Regions from separate parts of the Homo sapiens genome. Here regions 1, 2 and 3 are each linked to region 4. Evidence: fine-mapped expression QTL. A gene starts in region 4. Each other region holds a variant in brackets. All regions are shown on one strand. Distances are from middle to middle.

Region 1 (5,144 bases), 27 kb before region 4:
GCTAGGATTACAGGTGTGAGCCACGGCGCCTGGCTCCCAGCAAATCTTAACAGAGCTCTGTGGCCTGGCTGGTTCTGCGTGTTCATCTCATCCTTGTCTCCTGGGTCCACTGAACCCCCAGCCAGAAGGTATGCTCCTTAAAGCTGTGAATCAAGCCAGGTCCCCGGGTCTTCTTGAATGCTCAGAGCTTTTCCATCAATGGTCAAGAAACAGATTCTGGGGCTCGGGGCGGCTGGTTTCTCTGGGCCCCTAGGGAGTCCCTGGTTAGTCGGTGTAGGTACAGTCATTTCTCTCTCTTGGGAGGTTGCACTGTGTCTGGGAGGCACAGCCCCTTCTCATCTGCCTGGTCCTCGCCTGAACAGTACCTTCCTCTCCCCAGTCATCCCTGAGCTAGACTGTAGCCCCTAGGGACCCGTCTCCCAATGGGCCCCAGCTCTCCTCCCTCTCTCTTCTTCCCTTGGGGCAGCCAGAAGTCCCCGCTCATAACTCCCACACGAATGAGCCTGTCTAGGGACAGAGGGAGGGACCTGAGTGACATTTTAATTATGCCTCTAATTGCTTTCCAGGGAGATGAGTGGGGAACTCACATTTCTCTGTGGGTGCTCAGGGGAGAGTGCAGGGTTTCCACCAGGAACTCAGCCACATTGAGATCCCCAAGATTTCCCCAGATTTCCTGAGAGCAAGCGGGGGCTTCAACAAGCAGTGAGCCAGCCCTACGCAGACCAGGGCTCCCTTCTGAAGCTGTCCAGAAAGAGGGGAACATGATTCAAGGGAAGGAGGTGGTAGGGCAGGGGCAGGGCAGTGGGTTCAGGGGCCACTAGACCCTCACCCCCTGACTTTATATCCCGAGGTTTTGATGTGCCCAGGAGTGGTGGGGTGAGAAGGGCAGGAGTTTTGAATGAATTCTGGGCATTAGAGAAGGCGGCCTCGAGGCTTATCTGATCATCTTTCTCCATCTGGAAAATGGGGATGTGGAGCTTCTATCTCCCTGAGAAGTGAGGTTGAACTGAGGACCTGCCACTTGTAAGCTGATTTTCCAGGCTTAACGGTAAAAGGGGAAAGAGGAGGTGGTAGCCCCGCTCCCAGCATCATGCAGAAACTGCCTTCAGGGCCAGCCACTTTCTGGTGGTGACAGTTCCGTGCACCAGGACACCAGGGGGCTGGGGAGAACACAGTCACTCTCATCCTAATCACAACTGTATAAAAAGCCCATGTCGACCGGCACGGTGGCTCACACCTGTAATCCCAGCATTTTGGGAAGCCAAGGTGGGCGGATCACTTGAGGTCAGGAGTTGGAGACCAACCTGGCCAACATGGTGAAACCCAGTATCTACTAAAAATACAAAAATTAGCTGGGTGTAGTGGCGCACGCCTGTAATCCTAGCTAGTTGGGAGGCTGAGGCAGGAGAATCGCTTGCACCTAGGAAGCGGAGGTTGCAGTGAGCTGAGATCACACCCCTGCACTCCAACCTGGGCGACAGAGTGAGACTCCATCTCAAAAAAAACAAAACAACAACAACAAAAAAAAAAAACAAAAAAAAACAAAAAACCAACCCCCTCCCCCACAAAAAGCCCATGTCACTGTTTCTGTGCCTCAACCCTCTAAGAGTGGCAGGATACCCATTTTACAGAGCAGGAGAGGGAGGCACAGAACAGCTAAGCGACCAAGTGCCAAGGGCTTCCAAGAGATGGCAGTTAGGGACACCTGAGTCCCCAGACTCTGAAGGGGCCTGCCCAGGCAGACAGCATCGCAGGAAGGGCGGGTCCTCACGGACAGAGAGACAGAAGCCACCTCAGGCCCCCCTGGACAGCTCTAGGACCTGGGTCCAGACCCCACCCCCATCCTGAAATAGCCCTCCCAAAAAGCAGAGACAGACACCAGGCGTGCTTTAGGGCTTTTTTTTTAATGTTTCCTCACTGTTTTGACAATATCATGAAAAAAATCAGTTTAGAATCTGGAATTGGCCTGGACGGGATTCGAGGGCAGCTGGCGGGGGCTGCATAGCCCCTGAGGTTCCTCCCCCACCATGGGACCTAAGCTATTGGAAACAGGAGCACCAACAGGGCACCGAACCTGGAACTAAGTTAGTGTCTAGAGTCAGGCAAGAGAGGAGAGTCAGGCAAGAGAGGAGGGGCCGGGCCACAGTCGCCATGGGGACGCCCCTGGCTGTGGTTGGTTCTGTGTCTCCCCCTCCCCTCACTGGCTACATGGAGACAGGGAGGTGGGTCAGGCTGTTCCCAGGACAGAAAAATAACCGGCAGTCAACCTCAGGGCTCATACCCGAGCTTCTGCTCAATCCCCTCGGGGACAGTTACAGGACTCAGAGAGAAACGTGAATTTCAGAAAAACAAATCATTTTTCACATAAGTGTTCCAAATATTGCGTGGGGCATATTAATGCTAGAAAATTATCTTTTGTTTACCTGAAATTTGCGTTTAACTCAGCACTCTGTTTTGGTTTTGCTAAATCTGGCCAACCCTGGCCTCAAAAGTCGGTGGGGGGAGGCCTGAGAAAAGAAAGGGAAGTAGTCAGTACTGAGGGTATTGAGGGGAGGGAGGGAATAACTCAGCCAAAAAGAAAAAAAAGGCTTTCCCCCCATAGGAATGATATATTATTTAAAAAAAAAATCGTTCTCCAAAAATATTCTGCACTGGCCTTCCTCAGTTGTTAATAGCTATGGGAGGTGCGTAGGGAAAACACACACACCAGACACCCACCCCATGTCATTCTAAATAAAGTTGGGAAGCACTAAAGTTGAGCTGGTGTCTTTGCCACGGATGTCCCCAGACTCCAGTCCGCTAATCGCCACCAGACTCCAGTCCGCTAATCGCCACTGTGAATTT[T/C]GAAGAGGAGGCTTAGTATAAAGGTTTTCTAAAAGGATTGATTCTCATTCTGAGGCAGACCTATTAACACCATCCTGATATTGCTCTATAAGGATTTAAACACAATAATAAAGAACAAACAAGCCCCTAGGGACTGAGCGAGTGCCCTAGCCCTGTTCCTAGTGTCATCCTGGAAGGGTCCCTTCTTGCAATTCACGAAGCCTGGGGGGCTTTCCTTCCATTCTCCATCCTGTTCTCTTCCCCTGGAAAGGGCTGCGTTTAGTGCACATGCTCGCAGCTGGCCCCCCGTCCAGCTCAGCTCCAAGGGGCTCCAGATTTCCAGGGCAGGAGCTGGGGTGGGGCAGGGAGGGGCTGAGAGGCAAGACCGTCTCCCTCCTGCTGCAGCTGCTTCCCCAGCAGCCACTGCTGGGCACAGCAGAAACGCCAGCAGAGAAAATGGGAGCCGAGAGTCCTTAGCCCTGGAGCTGAGGCTGCCTCTGGGCTGACCCGCTGGCTGTACGTGGCCAGAACTGGGGTTGGCATCTGGCATCCATTTGAGGCCAGGGTGGAGGAAAGGGAGGCCAACAGAGGAAAACCTATTCCTGCTGTGACAACACAGCCCTTGTCCCACGCAGCCTAAGTGCAGGGAGCATGATGAAGTCAGGCAGCCAGTCGGCACCCATGCCAGCCCCCTACGTCCTCCGAAGACCCGAGGGCCAGGCCAGTGTCCCTCATCTACAAGGTCCAGGGTCCATGGTCTGAATCAAGGGTCCTGGCTGCCCCTGCGCCGTAGGGTCAAAGGTCATAGTGGGGTGGGGGCAGGGAGAAGATGCAGCCAAGAGCTCCCGGTGGCCACCCACTGTCCGCCTCACACACGGATTTCATCCTCCTCCTCCTCATCCATGAAGGAGAACTCCTTGTCTGGCTGTCTTGAGACAGCAGCCCGGGCCCTGTCCGGCCCCCGGAAGGCAGGGCTGCGCTCCTCCAGGATGCCTGAGGTGCAGCTGGAGAGGGAGCTGCTGTCCCGTGTGGTGTGGCTGCCCATGCTGCGGGCTGAGCCGGGGCTGGGGGCCGCTGCTGCCCACCCCTCATCCTCCAGAGCATGGGAGGGGAGGGAGGGCAAGTCTGGGCCAGCCTTGCCTTCCTGCCTTGCCAGGGGAGGGGCCGCCACGGCGTACGGGGGAGCCTGGGTGATGGTGCCAGCGGCGCCCTCATCGCCATGGTAACCACCCTCCCCCTCCTCGGGGTCCCACTCCTCCTTGTCCATGATGCTGAGGACGTCACCCAGCATGGAGGGCCCCAGGTCGATGTGGAAGGACATGATGGACTCCGCATGCTTCAGCCCGTACGTGGCCTTGGGCACGACAGGCAGATCTGTCAGATCCCCAAAGGCCTGCTCATCGAGGAGGGGGTCAGGGGAATGTGGACCCGCGGCCCCATTCCGACGGGGCACTGCCTCCTCCGTGCCCGCCTCCTCATCGCCGCCCTCCCCGTCATTGGCCTTCTTCACGGGGCTGGATGACAGGCTCTTGGGCAGCTTACTGGTGCCCTTCTCCGCGGCCTCCTTCTCATTGAGCTGGGGCAGGGACATGGCATTCTTGACAAACAGGGCCGAGTCCCGCAGGGAGCCCAGCATGTCACGCTGCTCCCGCTCCCCCCTGGTCACCGACTGTGACCGCTTGCTGCCCCGGAACTTCCTGGACAGGAGACTGCGTTTGGAAGATGAAGAAGAGGGCTGTTCGTCCAAGGACTCGCCGTCGGGCTCGCCAGCCTTGCTATTGAGGAAGGAGGTGTCCCCAAAGGCGTCTCCGGCCCGGCCAACGTGCATGGTGTGGCGGAAGTCGCCCAGCGGGGCGCTGATCATCTCGGCCGTGAGGTCCGCTCGGGAACGGCGCTTGGAGTGCACCGAGCTGGACACCAGTTGCTTGAGGATTGGCATCTTGCTGGATGGGCGGGGAGGTGGGCCCTCCCGAGGTAGCCGGCAGGTCTGGGGTCAGATCTGAAGTCCAAGTCCAGTGGGCAGAGGGGGACGCAATGAGGAGATCATAAGGCTGCAAGCAGAGAATGAGAGGCAAAGGATTAACGCGGGCTGGCCACACGGCACAAAAGCCTCTTTGCCAGGGGACTGTCATTTAAACCCCAGCGCTCCTACCAAAGTTAAATGCTGTGAAATAAGCCAGCAATCCATGGTATAACCCTGCCTGTTTCTTCATCCGCAGGCATTCAGAGTAGAGGAGTGATTTTGCAAATCTGGTTAGAGTTCCAGTAGCCTCGGACACACTTTCCCTGAAACTTGAGAGAGACAGAACCTTTCTTGCAGA
Region 2 (5,144 bases), 35 kb before region 4:
AACAGAGCGAAACTCCAAAAAAAAAAAAAAAAAAAAAAAAAGCAACAGACCCTTATTTCTCTTAGTTCTAGGAAGTCCAAGATCAAGGTGCTGGCAGATTTTGTTCCCAGGGAGGGCTCTCTTACTGGCTGGCAGATGGCCACCTTCTTGCTGTGTCTTTACAAGGCGAGGAGAGAGAGACTGAACGCTGGCCTCATTCTCTTCTTACAAAGACACTGATTCCATCATGGCGTCTCCACCCTCAGGACCTCACCTAAACCTAATCACTTCCCAAAGACCTCCAAGTCCTAATACCATCACATTGGGATTAAGGGTTCTGTGTGTGAGTTTTGAGAGGACACAAACATTTGGTCCATAACACTCGCTTCACAACAGCTTGCCATTTCCATTTGAATCAGCTTCCATGTATCTGAGATCAAACTCAAACTCCCCCAAATCCATTCTTCCCTCAGTCTTTCCTGCTCAGAAAAAGTGAAACTGCCCAGACACTCAGGCCAAAAGCTAGGTGAATCTTTGGTTCTCTAAACATGCTTGTCCCCGCCATTCACCTCCCGGACTCCTCATCCTCTGAGTCTGATTTAAATGCCACTTCTTCAGGGAGCACCTACCCCCCATGACCTGTGAGACAGGGTCTCACTCTGTACCCCAGGCTGGAGTACAGTGGTACAATCATGGCTCACTGCAGCCTCAACTTCTGGGCTCAAGTGATCCTCCCACCTCAGCCTCCTAAGTAGCTGGGGCTGCAGGAATGCACCACCACGCCCAGCTAGCTTATTTTTTGCAGAAATGGAGTCTCATTATGTTGCCCAAACTCCTGGGCTCAAGCAATCCTCCTACCTTGGCCTCCCAAGATGCTGGCATTACAGGCGTGAGCCACCACACCCAGCCCCCAGTGACCTTATCCAAAGTGAGGCCCCGGGTTATTCTCCCTCTGAGCGTTAGTCTCCCTCCCAGCATCTAGATGTGTGTTTCCTTCAAATCAGTACCATGTTTGCTGCTTTTACTTATCTTCTTGCTTGTTGAGTGTCTGTTTCCCAAGCCCTCCAACCCAAACCCTTAAGGCCAAGGCCCATCCGGGTGACTTCGGCAACAGTTCAGTAGACACAGTGCCAGGGCCCTCTGCCCTTTTAGGGGCCCACAAACGTGTTCTAATTTATTTGAAAATCAGAAGAAAATAGCCGGGCGTGGTGGCTCACACCTGCAATCCCAGCACTCTGGGAGGCCAAGGCGGGCAGATGACGAGGTCGGGAGTTCGAGACCAGCCTGACCAACATGGTGAAACCCTGTCTCTACTAAAATACAAAAATTAGCCCTGCATGGTGGGGCGCACCTGTAATCCCAGCTACTCGGGAGGCTGAGGCAGGAGAATTGCTTGAACCCAGGAGACAGAGGTTGCAGTGAGCCAAGATTGCACCACTGCACTCCAGCCTGGGCAACAGAGCGAGACTCCCTCTAAAAAAAAAAAAAAAAACAACAAACAGAAGAAAATATGCAAACCTGTAGGTTTATAGCAGCAGAGTCATAAATATAATTTTCACAATTTTTATGGAGGAAGGGGTCCACACAACTTACAGTGCCACCCTGGGACTGTGTTGGCTTTGCCTACTGTTATACCTCCCAACACATCCCAGAGTACTTGGAGCATGGCAGGGGCTCAGTACATATCTGATGAATAAAGGAATCTGCACTATAGTTTTCTTTTTTTCAGAGAATACAACAGCAAACTCTCTGCAGTCAGCCCAGATTTGGTGGAGGGTTGGGGAAGAACCACGGTTGTGAGAAATGATATTGATGCAGGATTGTCTTCAAGTCAGCCAGGAGATGACACAGTCCTCTCACTACTCTAGATCTGCAAGGAGAAGCCCTCTGGCCCATGCCACCTTCTCAATACAATCCTCGATCTGACTTCAGGATGAAAAATTAGAAAGCTGCCTTGGTACAGCCACTTCTCAAGTA[T/C]ACCCATGTAGAAACATTTTACTGGCTAATAGGAAGTATCAATTTTCTCAATCAAGCAGGCAATTAAAAAATGTAAGTATATACATTTTTCCTCAAGGGACTGCATAAATTTTTTTTTTTTTTTTTTTTTTTTTTTGCTTTGAAGAAAAGAATGTGACCTAAAAACTATTTTTGTTTTTTTTTTTTTTTGAGATAGAGTCTCACTCTGCTGCCCAGGCTGGAGTGCAGTAGCACGACCTCGGCTCACTGCAACCTCTGCCTCCCGGGTTCAAGCGATTCTCCTGCCTCAGCCTCATGAGTAGCTGGGATTACAGGCGCACACCACCACTTCCGGCGAATTTTTGTATTTTCAGTAGAGACGGGGTTTCGCCATGTTGGTCAGGCTGGTCTCAAACTCCCTGTGATCCGCCTGCCTCAGCCTCCCAAAGTGCTGGGATTGCAAGCATGAGCCACCATGCCCGGCCCTGAAAACACTTTTATTTGTCTTAAATTGGTCTTTATATTTTGCCATTACTTTTAACGACAAAAAATGCAATTACATCTTTTTTTTTTCTTTTTTTTTGAGACAGATCCTGGAGTGCAGTGGCATGATCTTGGCTCATTGCAACTTCCGCCTCCCGGGTTCAAGCAACTCTCCTGCATCAGCCTCCCAAGTAGCTGTGGTTATAGGCTTGCGCCACCACGCCCAGCTAATTTTTGTATTTTTAGCAGAGACAGGGTTTTGCCATGTTGGCCAGGCTGGTCTCGAACTCTTGACCTCAAATGATCCGCCCTCCTTGGCCTCCCAAAGTGCTGGGATTACAGGCGTAAGCCACCGTACCCAACCCTCAATTACTTTTGCACCAACCTTTTAAGAAAGTGGCTCACTCCTCCTTTATGAGCAGTGGTTTTCAGCCCCTAATAGGGCATTTGGCAATGTCAGGGGACTTTTTTTTTTGAGACAGGGTCTCACCCTGTTGCCCAGGCTGGAGTGCATGGTGTGATCACGGCTCACTGCGGCCTCAACCTCCTGGGCTCAAGCCATCCTCCCACCTCAGCCTCCCCAGTAGCTGGGAGCACTAGGTGGACACAACCACACCTGGCTAATTTTTTATATGTTTTGTAGAGATCTGGTTTCACCATGTTGGCCAGGTCTTGAACTCCTGGTCTTGAACTCCTGGGCTCAAGTGATCCAACTGCCTCGGCCTCCCAAAGTGCTGGGATTACAGGCATGAGCCACCGAGCCCGGTCTGAGGACATTTTCCACTGTCACAATTTGAGGGAGTGCTTGGCATCTACCAGGCGGAGGCCAGGGATGCTGCAAACACACTACAGTGCGCAGGTCAGTCCCCAGTAACAATGAATGAGCCAGCCCCAAATATCAATAGTGTTGGGTTGAGAAACCCTCCTCTGGGAGGATCTAAATTGTGCCTCTTGGATCATGTGGGTCTGGCCCTCCATAGAGTGGGTTTTACTGATCTGTGCCTTGGTATCAAACCCTCAATTTATCCTGAGTAACTCTGTAGAAAGCAGCTGATAGGGTTTGTGTGACTGTATCTGTGTCTTACTTAGTCCATTTGGAGTGCTATAAACAATATTCCACAATCTGGGTGGCTTATAAACAACAAAAATTTGCCAGGCACGGTGGCTCACACCTGTAATCCCAGCACTTTGGAAGGCCGAGGCAGGCAGATCACTTGAGGTCAGGAGTTTGAGACCCACCCAGCCAACACAGTGAAACCCTGTCTCTACCAAAAAATACAAAACATAGCCAGGTGTGGTGGCGTGAGCCTGTAGTCCCAGCTACTCGCGAGGCTGAGGCAGGAGAATCACTTGAATCCGGGAGGTGGAGGTTGCAGTGAGCCGAGATCACGCCACTGCACTCCAGCCTGGGAGACGGAGCAAGACTGAGTGACCCTGTCTCTAAAACAAAAAAGGACTGTCGTTGACGGTGTTGCTTGGGACACTACCCGTCATCCCTTCAAAGGTCCCACGAGAATTCCTCTCAGACTTTAGTGTCAGAAATAGCTGCGCTGCTTCTAGGTTGAGTGTTTTATTTTGCTTTTTAATTGAGTCAGAATCCTGCTCTGTTGCCCAGGTTGGAGTGCAGTGGCACAATCTCGGCTCACTGCAACCTCCACCTCCCAGGCTTAGGTGAGTCCCCTGCCTCAGTCTCCCTAGTAGCTGGGATTACAGGTGTCTGCCACCACGCCCAGCTAATTTTAAGCGGAGTTTCACCATGTTGACCAGGCTGGTCTCGAACTCCTGGCCTCATGTGATCCACCCGCCTTGGTCTCCCAAAGTGCTAGGATTACAGGCATGAGCCACTGCACCCGGCCAGGGTTGGTTTTAATCTTGTGGACTTTGTGAGTCTCAAAACCGGCAGATTTCCCTCTTTGTTTTGACTGATACGAAGCTCAGAATCCTGTTTGCAGTCCACCTTTGAGGATTGTGGAGCCCCAGCCAAAGAACATTTCTGTGTCCTACCCTCTTGGTTCATTGTACCATGTGTTCCAGTGTTGTTTTCTCTCTGATCTATTTTTATCCTATTGTATTTTATGAATTTTTGTAAGCTGCCTCTAATCCTTTTTGGAAGAAAGCAGGGCAGAAGAAGAAAACAAGATTCATCAGAACCCTGTGGCCTTGACAAGTGTGTTTTAACATGCCAAGTGTCATTTAGGGTTGGATTCTGGCCAGGGAAGGCAGCTATCCTTGGCTCCTCCTATCTCTCCTGGGAGTCTCTGTGGAGAACAGCAGCTCAGTAGGTTAGAGCAACAGGTTTTAGAGGTAGAGCCAGTATCCATCTGCCTGCAAGCACCACTCCCTCCCACCAAAATATTCTTCCCAGTCTCCCATCTGTCTGTTGGCAGGAAGCCACGGGGCCTAGAGGAGATCGGAAAGGGGAAGAATAAAGATAAGGTCTCCCATTTTCATTCCTAACTTTTATTTCTGGCATCTTAAATCAGGGCCCTCAGGGCTCAGGGAAAGATCGTGTACGTGTTAAGTGCTGCGGGTGAAGGGTGGCCAGGAAGGGCACCTGCCCAAGTGTGGAGGGAGTGGGGGCCTTGGGGAGTCTGTCATATGAGGGTCGAGGGGAGCCAGGCAGGGGTGGGGAGTGCCACACACACCTGGAAAGTCCCACCCCTCCATCTCGCCCTGCGTTCAGGGATCTTCCAGCCACCCCTGCAGCTATACCACTCCCAGCTCTG
Region 3 (5,144 bases), 42 kb before region 4:
AACCCCAGATTCTGCATTAGTAAAATGGGACCAATGCACACCATGTCCCTGGAGGACTGAGGATCAGTGAAAGTACACGTGGTTGCCTGTCACAGGAGTGGTTTTTGTTGTTGTTGTTTTATTTTTGAGACAGAGTCTTGCTCTGTCCCCCAGGCTGGAGTACAGTGGCGAAATCTCAGCTCACTGCAACCTCCGCCTCCCAGGTTCAAGCGATTCTCCTGCTTCAGCCTCCTAAGTAGCTGGGATTACAGGCGCCTGCCACCATGCCTGGCTACTTTTTTTATTTTTAGTAGAGACAGGGTTTCACCATGTTGGCCAGGCCGGTCTCGAACTCCTGACCTCAAGTGATCCGCCCACCTCGGCCTCCCAAAGTGCTGGGATTAAAGGCATGAGCCACTGCGCTTGGACCTATCCCTTCTTAAAATGCATTATTCCTAAGGGCCCCTGGTAAAAGATGCCATGGGGGAAGGGGTCCCATGATGCTTCAGGTGCTGCTGGGGGCTACTGTAAGATCCGGCAGTGATGGCCTGGCAGCCGAATAGCCACGGGGTTGGGAGGGGCTGGAGGTCAGGAGGGGTGCCCCTCACCCGCCGCTGCTGCTGCTCAGTCCCAGGGACAATGAGCCAGTGTTCCCTGCTCTCTCCACCGCCCTTTGTGCCCCAAGAATGCCACTTGGAGGGGACAGCTGTTGGCTTCACAGTGGCCACTTGAAGTGCAGGGCAGGGAGGCCCTGCAGCCAGGATGGTCCTGCTCTGTCATTGTGCAGGAACTCAGTCTCTAGGAGTCCGTCAGTTCTGACACCTGCACCCAGGGAAAGACATCTACTTCCCCTTGGGGCTTGGAAATAGCCACAGGACTAATAAACCACCCACACTTCTCATTCAAGGCTCCTCCCATTCTCAAGGTAAACTTCCAAGCTGCTCTACCCGTTTTATAGGTAAGGAAATCAAGGCCCAGAAGTGAAACCACTGCCTAAGCTTATATAGCCAGTAGATGTGGGAATGGGGGCCTAGAATCCAACCTTTGCTACCAGTTACTAGGACTTAATTGGTTTAGGTTCACTGTTTACGTTGTATTCTCTCTAATTCCCACAAAACCTTGCAAAGAGAGCTATTATTCTTTCTCTTCTACAACTGAAAAAAGCTGAGGCTAAAGGCTTAGATGTGCTTCCTAAAGACCACAAGCTCAGGTCTGCTTGGCCCCAAAGCCAGCTCCTTCCAGCCTACCAAGCTAAGCGTGGGAGACGGCTCCACCTCCCCTGGGCTGGGAAGACCACCCAGACCCCTGAGGCCCAAGACAGCTACTGAGCCTTTGCTTGTTCCTGAGTAGGTAGGATGCAGATTCTACTTTTGGTCCAAATATCAAGGAAATAGGACATTTTGGGCTTAGGGAGTCAGCCCTGCTCAAAGGGGTGTGCAGATAGCATTCCCTGTCCACTGTTGCCGCGACGTTTCTTCACTTGGTCTTCAGGTCATCCTCCGCCCTGCCTGGGGTTCTGTGCCCAGAGCCTCTCCAGGCTGAGCAGAGGCTGCCCAAAGCCTCCCTGGGCTCAGAGGGAAACTCCACAGGCTTCAGCCCCTGCCCCCCATGACCTGTGAGAAAGGAGCCTGTCACCCACAGCTGCAGGCCCGGCCTGTCCGCAAAGCCGAAGTGGCAGAGGTGGCAGGTGGGGCAGCTTGGGTCACACTCTGGTCTCCTCCTCCTTAACCACAGTCCTCTGGCTTCCCACGTCTGGCTCTTACCCTCCCTCCTCTGGGGAGCTATTCACTCACTCACTCACTCATTCACTTACTCATTCATCCACTCACTCATTCACTCACTTATTCACTCTCACTCATTTATTCACTCACTCACCTATTCACTTATTCACTCACTCTTTCACTCACTCACTCATTTATTCACTCATTCACTCACTCATTCACCCATTTGCTCATTCACTCACTTGTTCACTCATTCACTCACTCATTCACCCATTCACTCACTCATTCACTCACTCGTTC[A/G]CTCATTCACTCACTCATTCACCCATTCACTCACTCATTCACTCACTCACTCATTCACTCATTCATTCACTCACCCACTTACTCATTCACTCATTCATTCACCCATTCACTCATTCACTCACTCACTCATTCACTCACTCACCCACTTACTCATTCACTCACTCACTCATTCACTCACTCATTCACTCACCCACTCACTCATTCTCTCACTCATTCACTCATTTATTCACTCACCCACTTACTCACTCACTCATTCACTCACTCATTCTCTCATTCACCCACTCATTCTCTCATTCACTCACTCATCCACTCACTCACTCATTCCCTCACTCATTCACTCACTTATTCATCCATTCACCCACTTGTTCACTCATTCACCCACTCATTCACTCAGTCACTCACTCATTCACTCACTCACTCACTCACTCACTCATTCACTCACTCACTCGCTCAAAAGTATTTTTTAACTGCTGCCGTCTCTGGAAGACACAGAACAAACAAGACACAGCCACTTGCCTAGGAGATTGCACTCGGTAGAATAATGTGCTCCCATCCAAAGATGCCCACATCCTAATTTCCAGAAACTGTGGGTGTGTTACCTTACAAGGCAAAAGGGACCTTGCTGATGCAATTAAGTTAAGAATCTTGAGATGGGAAGATTATTCTGGATTATCTGAGTGGGCCCAATAGCACCACAAAGATCCTTATGAGGAGGCAGGGTCAGAGGAAGGGAGAGACACAGAGGAAGAGAGGAAAAAACAGAGAGAGATGTGAAGATGCTGTACTGCTGGCTTTGAAGCTGGAGGAAGGGGCCATGAGCCAAGGAATGCGGGTGGCCTCTAGAAGTAGAAAAGACAGATTCTGCCCTCAAACCTGCAGGAGGAACACAGACCTACCCACATCTTGATTTTAGCTCAGTGAAAGCCATCTGGGCCTTCTGACCTTTAAAAATGTGAGATATTACATTTGTGGGCCAGGCATGGTGGCTCATGCCTATAATCCTAGGACTTTGGGAGGTGGAGGAGGGTGGATTGCTTGAGCTCAGGAGTTTGAGACCAGCCTGGGCAACATAATGAGACCCCATCTCTACAAAAATTAGCTGGACGTGGTGGCCTGCACCTGTAGTCCCAACTACTCAAGAGGCTGAGGTGAGAGGTTGGCTTGGACCCAGGAGAAGGAGGTCGCAGCGAGCTGAGATTGAACCACTGCACTCCAGCCTGGCGACAGAGCCAGACCCTGTCTCAAAAAAAAAAAAAAAGTGCTGTTTGTTTGTTTGTTTGTTTGTTTGTTTTTTTGAGACGGAGTCTCACTCTGTCGCCCAGGCTGGAGTGCAGTGGCGCAATCTTGGCTCACTGCAAGGGCTGCCTCCCGGGTTCACGCCATTCTCCTGCCTCAGCCTCCCGAGTAGCTGGAACTACAGGCGCCCGCCACCGCGCCTGGCTAATTTTTTGTATTTTTTAGTAGAGATGGGATTTCACCGTGGTCTCGATCTCTGATCTCCTGACCTCGTGATCTGCCTCCCAAAGTGCTGGGATTACAGGCGTGAGCCACCATGCCTGGCCAAAAAAGTACAGTTTTAAGCTACCAGATTTGTGGCAATTTGTGTTTTCTATTTGTTTGTTTTGTTTTGAGACAGAGTTTCACTCTGTCACCAGGGCAGGAGTGCAGTGGTGCCATCTCAGCTCACTGCAACCTCCACCTCCTGGGTTCAAGTGATTCTTGCGCCTCAGCCACCTGAGTAGCTGGGATGACAGGCATGCACCACCACACCTGGCTAATTTTTGTATTGTTTTATAGTAGAGACGGGATCATTTCCATGTTGGATAGGCTGGTCTTGAACTCCTGATCTCAAGTGATCTGCCCACCTCAGCCTCCCAAAGTGCTGGGATTCCAGGCATGAGCCACTGTACCCGGCCAATTTGTGGTAATTTGTTACAGCAACAATAAGGAAACTAGTATAGAGAGGAACGTAACCAATAAGCAGGCAGTGACATCAGAAGGCACTGGCGGAGCTACTACAAGGCTGCTGAGCTCTCACTTAGGTGTTGCAGGAAAGCTTCTGGGAGGAAGTGAAACAAAGGCATAGACATGTAGAGTCTTGTCAAGGCAGAAGGGGGACAATGGTTCCAGCCGCCGCCATGCGTTTAGGAAACCACTTCTGGTTCTATAGGATCAGATCTGGCACACTGGCTGCTGGGGGTGGCTCGGGGGACTGGGAGGTCCAGGCTTGCGAAGGGCCTCAAACCTGGGACCTTGAGGAGTCACTGAAAGCCCACTTTACGATGTTGTTGAAATTTGCATTTTTACTTTATTTTTTATTTTTGAGATGGAGTCTCACTCTCTCACCCAGGCTGGAGTGTGGTGGTGCAGTCTTGCTCATTGCAACCTCCACCTCCTGGGTTCAAGCGATTCTCCTGCCTAGCCTCCTGAGTAGCTGGAATTATGGGTGTGCTCCAGTACGCCCGGCTAATTTTTGTATTTGTAGCAGAGACAAGGTTTCACCGTGTTGGCCAGGCTGGTCTCAAACTCCTGGCCTCAAGTGATCCTCTTGCCTCGGCCTCCCAAAGGGCTGGGATTACAAAGGTCTGGAATTACTCCAGCGCCGTGAGCCACTGCACTGGTCGAGATTTGCATTTTAGAAAGAGCCCTCTGGCTGCAAAGTCCTGGGGCCACTCTCTAGAGAAGGCATGAAAGAAGGACATCCGGCAGCCAACTGCCAGAATCTAGAATTGGCTGAAAAGCAGCTCCAGGCCGGGCGCGGTGGCTCACACCTGTAATCCCAGCACTTTGGGAGGCTGAGGCTGGTGGATCACCTTGAAGTCAGGAGTTTGTGACCAGCCTGGCCTACATGGTGAAACCCCATCTCTACTAAAAATACAAAAATTAGCCAGGTGTGGTAGTGGGCGCCTGTAATCCCAGCTACTTGGGAGGCTGAGGCAGGAGAATCACTTGAACCTGGGAGGTGGGGGTTGCAATGAGCCAAGATCGTGCCATTGTACTCCAGCCTGAGCCACAGAGGGAGACTCCGTCTCAAAAAAAGAAAGAAAGAAGTGGCCGGGCGCGGTGGCTCACGCCTGTAATCCCAGCACTTTTGGAGGCCAAGGCAAGTGGATCACCTGAGGTCAGGAGTTCGAGAACAGCCTG
Region 4 (5,144 bases):
GCAAAGCTCTGTCTCCAAAAAAAAAAAAAAAAAAAAGGGTTGGCCAGGTGCAGTGGCTCATACCTGTATGCCCAGCACTTTGAGAGGCCGAGGTGGGGGAAGATCCCTTGAGCTCAGGAGTTCAAGACCAGCCTGGGCAACATGGTGAAACCCCACCTCTACAAAAAATACAAAAAATGGCTGGGCGTGGTGGTGGGCGCCAGTAGTCCCAGCTACTCAGGAGGCTGAAGTGGGAGGATAGCTTGAGCCCAGGAGGTCCAGCCTGCAGTGAGCCTTGACTATGACGCTGCACCACAACCTGGGTGACAGAGCAAGACCTGGTCTCAAAAAATTAATAAATAAAATAAAAATTATTTTTAAAATCAAAAGACTGGTGTAAGATTCCTCTCCCAGGTCAACACTCACTCCCCTGACCTTTATACATGAGACCTCCCTTTGCTTCTGACTCCTTGGTCTCTGGTTCTGTGAGGTGCTGTCGGGTTCCAGAGGCAGCAGCACAGTGGAGGCAGGGTACAGAGGATGGGGACAAGCACGGTGGGTGGGCAAGGGAAAGAGAGAAACGAGGGGAAAAGAGAAGAGGAATCCAAAAAGAGAGAGGCAGAAACCCCAGAAAATGGAGAATCATTCACAGCACAGGCCTAGGCTGTACAGCAGAGCAGGAGCAAGCTGCCCTCTGTGTGCAGGGACCCTAGGACTTCAGGGAGATTTCAGAGGGGAGGCGCTGAGACTCACCCCAGAACCACCGCCCATATGATCACAGCGGGCCCCTCCTAGTCCCTGCAGGGGTCCACCAGGATGCCTGGGAATCCACTTGGGATCTCCCCAAATTCACTGAACACCCCTTGTGGGAAGGAGCAGCTGTCTTCAAGGAGTGGAGAGGCAAAGTCCAAGTTCAGAGGAGATAAGCCACCCCACTAATCAGTCAGTCACATGTGCAGCTCACACAGGGCAGTTGATGAGAGCAGGAACCGGCAGGGCACCCCCGCATTCAGTAGGCACTGGCTTCTCAGCAGAGATAGAGCCTCAGGAGATCCTGGTGGATGCCCTGTTATTGCCCCAGGAGCCCCTGGGGCTGCCAGGGGCTCTCTTAGGGCCTGGCTCAGTCCCAGCCAACTCCCGATTTCTGGGAGAAATCAGAAATCCGCAGCTCAGCAATCCCTTCCTTTGTGGCCTGTTCTTTGTTCTCTTAAAATTCAGTCCACCCTGCTGGTGGTCCCTCCTCCACCCTAGCCTCAGAAGCGGGCGGGGGCTGAGGGAGTTATTGGAAACCCAGACTGCCAAAGAAGTCGCCTTGCAGGAGGCCCCTGTCACCGGCCCCTCATTATTTACACTCGCTGGATGGGACATTTCTCTGGTACAGATGGCTGCTGGGGTTCGGACGAGAGAGAGATTTTCCCTCCAGCACCCTGGACCCTCAGGGGAGGGCAGGGGGCTTCGCAGCGACGGGGGCTCCCAAGGACTCCACCCGGATCCAGCTGCTCAGCTATCTGGGCAAACAGTGGGCACCGGGCACACAGTAAGGGATGTGGGAGCCGGTCAGATTGCAAGGGGTGGGAGTCGTGGAGAGAGAGAAGTTCCAGAGGCAACGAGAAAAGAAAAGGCATTGTATTTCCCCTCCATTCTCCCAGGGAGAAAAAGAAAACTTCCAAAGCCGAGGCCGCAGTCACTGGGAAAACACAGGGAACCTGGTTTGAGTTAGCAGCGAGCACCCCTCCCCCAGTCACACACACACACACACACACACACACACACACACACACACACACACACACGCACTTCAGTCCTCTCCCAGGAAGCTGGCTCAGCCTCAGCCCCGGCTCCCGCCCAGCTCTCCAGCCCTCCCGGCCGGGGCACTCACCGGCTGACGGGATCCCCGCGGGCAGGATGGCTCCTGGGGGACGCGCCGGGGGCAGGGGGCAGTTTTGTAACCCCGGCTGGGGGCGCTCCGGAGAGGGGGCGGGGCCAGGGACGGCCGATCCGCGCGCACCCGCCCCAAGCGGGCGATTAAATCATTAACCGACCGCTCCCGCCTGCGATCCCGCTGAGCGCGCTGAGCTCGGGGCGCACTAGCCCAGGAGCGGCCGTCTCCCCGGCTCCAAGGGGGCGGGTGGCTCGACTGCCCTCCCCCCGCACCCCGCCAGGAGGCGCCTCGGCCTCCCGGGCTTCCGAGGGAGCGGGCGGGGCGGGAGCCTGGCGGGGGAGGGAAGGGTTCGCGGGGCGGGAGTAGGGGAAAGGAGGACCATTTGTTCCTTCGGCCATTCCCTTCCAGACAGCTCCTTCCCTCTGGCTTCCCGGCCGGGTGACATTGGGTGGCGTGTGCTGCAGTGTGTGTACGAGAGCGAGATGTGTACACGCCTCTGCCCGTACAGGCGGAGAATTCGGTTCTTATTCATGGAGAACTCCGGGCGCACACACGCCCCCCTCGCGGAGATCGCGGGCCGCGCGCCGCCGATTGCTGCGCTCCTGCCCACACCGACACACACCCCATTCCTGGGAAGGGGGAGGCCCTTTAAAACCGGCCCCCAACCCCCTCAGCGGCACCCTTGGCCAGGGCCGGGAGTTCCAGCGTGGAGAGAGGAAATGGAGTCCCGGCAACGCTGCGCCCGGCTCCCTGCCACCTCCTCCTCCACACATCCCGCTCTGCCAGGACACTAGGTGCGCAGCTTAGGGTCCCAGGCACCGCGGTGGGCGCGGTGAAAAGCGCGAGCGCCGAGAAGTGGGGGCTCCGCGCCCTTCTCCCCGCGCCGCGGCCTCGCATCCCCAGCTTCGATCCTCTCTGCCCCACAGGGGGACTCGAGACCCCCAAGCCCACCCAGGGCACCCAGCGCGAAGGCGGCTACCACAGACAGAGGCGGTTGCCCGTCGCCTACCTCGGTCCCCGGAGACCCGAGCTCTGGGCCGGCTGCGCTGTCCCCTTCGTGGGCTCCGCGCGGCGGAGGGGCTGGCGGCCCCTGTCAGCGCCGGCGTTTGTTTCCCTCTGGCTCTCGGGCTTTCAGGGCTGGGAGCCTCCAGGACACTCCCCTTCCAGGCTCCGCCCGCGCCCGCCCCGCGCAACCCTCCCCGCGCACCCCTCTGCGCTGATGTCACGGCGCCGCAGCAGCCAATGGCCGTCGGGAACCTCTGCCCGACTGCTCGGCCTCCTCGGTTCAAACTGAAAGCCTGAGACTTTCCCAACTCCGTATGGGGCAGCCTGGGCCCGCCCGGCTTCCGGGAGACACTCCCGCCCCAGCCTGCGCTCCGGCCGCGAACCCCCACTGGGGCCCCCAGGGCCAGGGGCGCGTCTCCCTCCGGGGGCCTGGCGCGAGGCTCTTTTGAGGCTCTTCCCCATTCGAGCCGGGGCAAGAAACCAAGAACTCCAGCCCGGGTGGCGTTCCTCGTTCCTGCTCCCTCCCGGACCTGCTAACCACCTGGCTGCAGTACTGTCGGGAGATGGGGCAGGAGGGCTGGCGCCACCAGCTTCGTGGGTGCCATCCCAGACTCTCGCTGTAAACGAGGGAGCGGGGAGGAGCCGGCCAGCCCCGAGGCCAGGCTTGGACTGGGCGTCAGAAATGTTTCTACAGGGTGACAGCCCTTGAGCTCCCCGCATCCCCGTCTGTGCCTTTGCCTCCTAAGTATCAGCTGAGGCTAAATTTGCACCAGGTGAACGTCAAGGAGGATCAACTCCTGAGTCCCAGAGCCTGAATCCAAGTCCCAGGCCTTGGACTCTATTCTTTTTAGAGGAATAGTTTCAGTTGAAATGATCATTATCAAGGTAGAATGCCAGCTGCGAAGTAGTCAACTAAAGTGGACAAGGCGCAAAGTGAAAAGTTCCCTTGCCTCTAGCTGAACCCCACCCTCGGTTTTTAAAGGAAGTGAGGGTGAAGGCCCCAGACTTTCCCCATGGCTGCGAGGTCCCTAAGCCCTCAGGAACATTCTGCTTTCTGGGGACAGCACATTTCCGTTTCCCTCTGCAGTGCGACAGCAACCAGCTCTTGAGAGCTAATGGTTTGGCCACTCCATCCTGCTGTGAAAATTAAGTTCTGGGCTGGGCGCAGTGGCTCATGCCTGTAATCCTAGCATTTTGGGAGGCCAAGGCAGGTGGGGGGTCACTTGAGGTCAGAAGTTTGAGACCAGCCTGGCCAACATGGCGAAACCCCATCTCTACCAAAAATACAAAAATTAGTCGGGCATGGTGGTGGGCGCCTGTAATCCCAGCTACCCAGGAGGCTGAGGCGGGACAATCGCTTGAACCTGGGAGGTGGAGGTTGCAGTGAGCCGAGATCGCGCTATTGCACTCTAGCCTGGGTGACAGAGGTAGACTCCATCTCAAAAAAAAAAATAAATGAATAATAAGTAAAATCAAATTCTGAACTGGACATCTGGAGGGAAAGGTAGGGTTTGGAGCCACTTGGGAGGCAGACACTGTGGATTCAAACCCTGGCGGGGTTATCATGGATGTAAACCAAAAAGTGACTAAGGCAGATCTCAATCAAATAGAGGTTTAGTTAGCCAAGGTTGAGGATCCACCGGGGAAAAATCACCTTTTTTCCAAAAAGGTTTTGGGAACTTCTGTATTTAAAAGAGAAAAAGCAAGCAGGAAAGGAAAAGAAGAGGGAGAGAGGGAGGAAAGGCATTGAGGTCACAAGCGTGTGAGGCTCTGATTTAGTGTCTGTAAGTCTACATTTTACATGTGAAAGGGAATAGAAGAAAAAGTCAATGATGCATTGTCTCCTACTCAGTACGTCTAAGGGGAGCAAAGGAAACCCTGTGTCAACAGGGTTGTGAAACTGCAGCTATCTGGGAACAAAAGGAAAGCAGCTTCTGTGGTTTCCAAGCTTAACGTCCCCCCCAGCCCCGCCCCTTTTTTTTTTTTGGAGACAGGGTCTTGCTCTGTTGCCCAGGCTGGAGTGCAGTGCTGCAATCGTAGCTCACTATAGCCTTGGCCTCCTGGGCTCAAGCGATCCTCCCACCTCACCCTCCTGAGTAGCTGAGACTACAGGTGTGCGCCACCATGCCCAGCTACATATTTTGTACTTTTTCTTTTGTAGAGACAGGGTTCTGTCATGTTGCCCAGGCTGGTCTCAAACTCCTGAGCTCAAGCAATCCACCCACCTCAACCTCCAAAAGTGCTGGGATTAAACTTTCCCTTTGACATAGTGAATTTG

Which allele goes with the higher level. Alleles are on the strand shown, and positions count from the first base shown. SD is a standard deviation of normalised expression in the study named. Not every link is listed here.
For the expression in monocytes after R848 of the gene that starts at base 2,979 in region 4, allele C in region 2 goes with a higher level than allele T (large effect, 1.7 SD a copy in Quach 2016).

The links. PIP is the estimated chance that this variant, and not a neighbour inherited with it, causes the effect.
Region 1: its variant is the best candidate, but not a certain one, in a credible set for the expression of CDC42EP4 in whole blood (INTERVAL, PIP 0.82).
Region 2: its variant is the best candidate, but not a certain one, in a credible set for the expression of CDC42EP4 in monocytes after R848 (Quach 2016, PIP 0.86).
Region 3: its variant is the best candidate, but not a certain one, in a credible set for the expression of CDC42EP4 in whole blood (INTERVAL, PIP 0.89).

Annotation. Positions count from the first base shown.
Region 1 is chr17:73,281,739-73,286,882 of GRCh38, forward strand. It overlaps CDC42EP4 (CDC42 effector protein 4), which reads right to left. Exons shown (of 2, transcript NM_012121.5): 2 at 1,886-4,874. The coding sequence starts at 4,762. The coding sequence ends at 3,692. Among named protein-coding and RNA genes, the nearest start is that of CPSF4L, 22 kb to the left of the region's middle. RefSeq lists enhancers at 27-156, 3,009-3,565, 4,121-4,676, 4,677-5,144. The variant T/C (reference allele first, on the strand shown) is at 2,845.
Region 2 is chr17:73,273,982-73,279,125 of GRCh38, forward strand. No RefSeq gene overlaps it. Among named protein-coding and RNA genes, the nearest start is that of CPSF4L, 15 kb to the left of the region's middle. The variant T/C (reference allele first, on the strand shown) is at 1,957.
Region 3 is chr17:73,267,189-73,272,332 of GRCh38, forward strand. No RefSeq gene overlaps it. Among named protein-coding and RNA genes, the nearest start is that of CPSF4L, 7.9 kb to the left of the region's middle. RefSeq lists an enhancer at 3,961-4,310. The variant A/G (reference allele first, on the strand shown) is at 2,001.
Region 4 is chr17:73,309,023-73,314,166 of GRCh38, forward strand. It overlaps CDC42EP4 (CDC42 effector protein 4), which reads right to left and starts at 2,979. Exons shown (of 2, transcript NM_012121.5): 1 at 2,871-2,979. RefSeq lists silencers at 1,728-1,857, 1,868-2,417, 2,868-3,127, 3,198-3,357.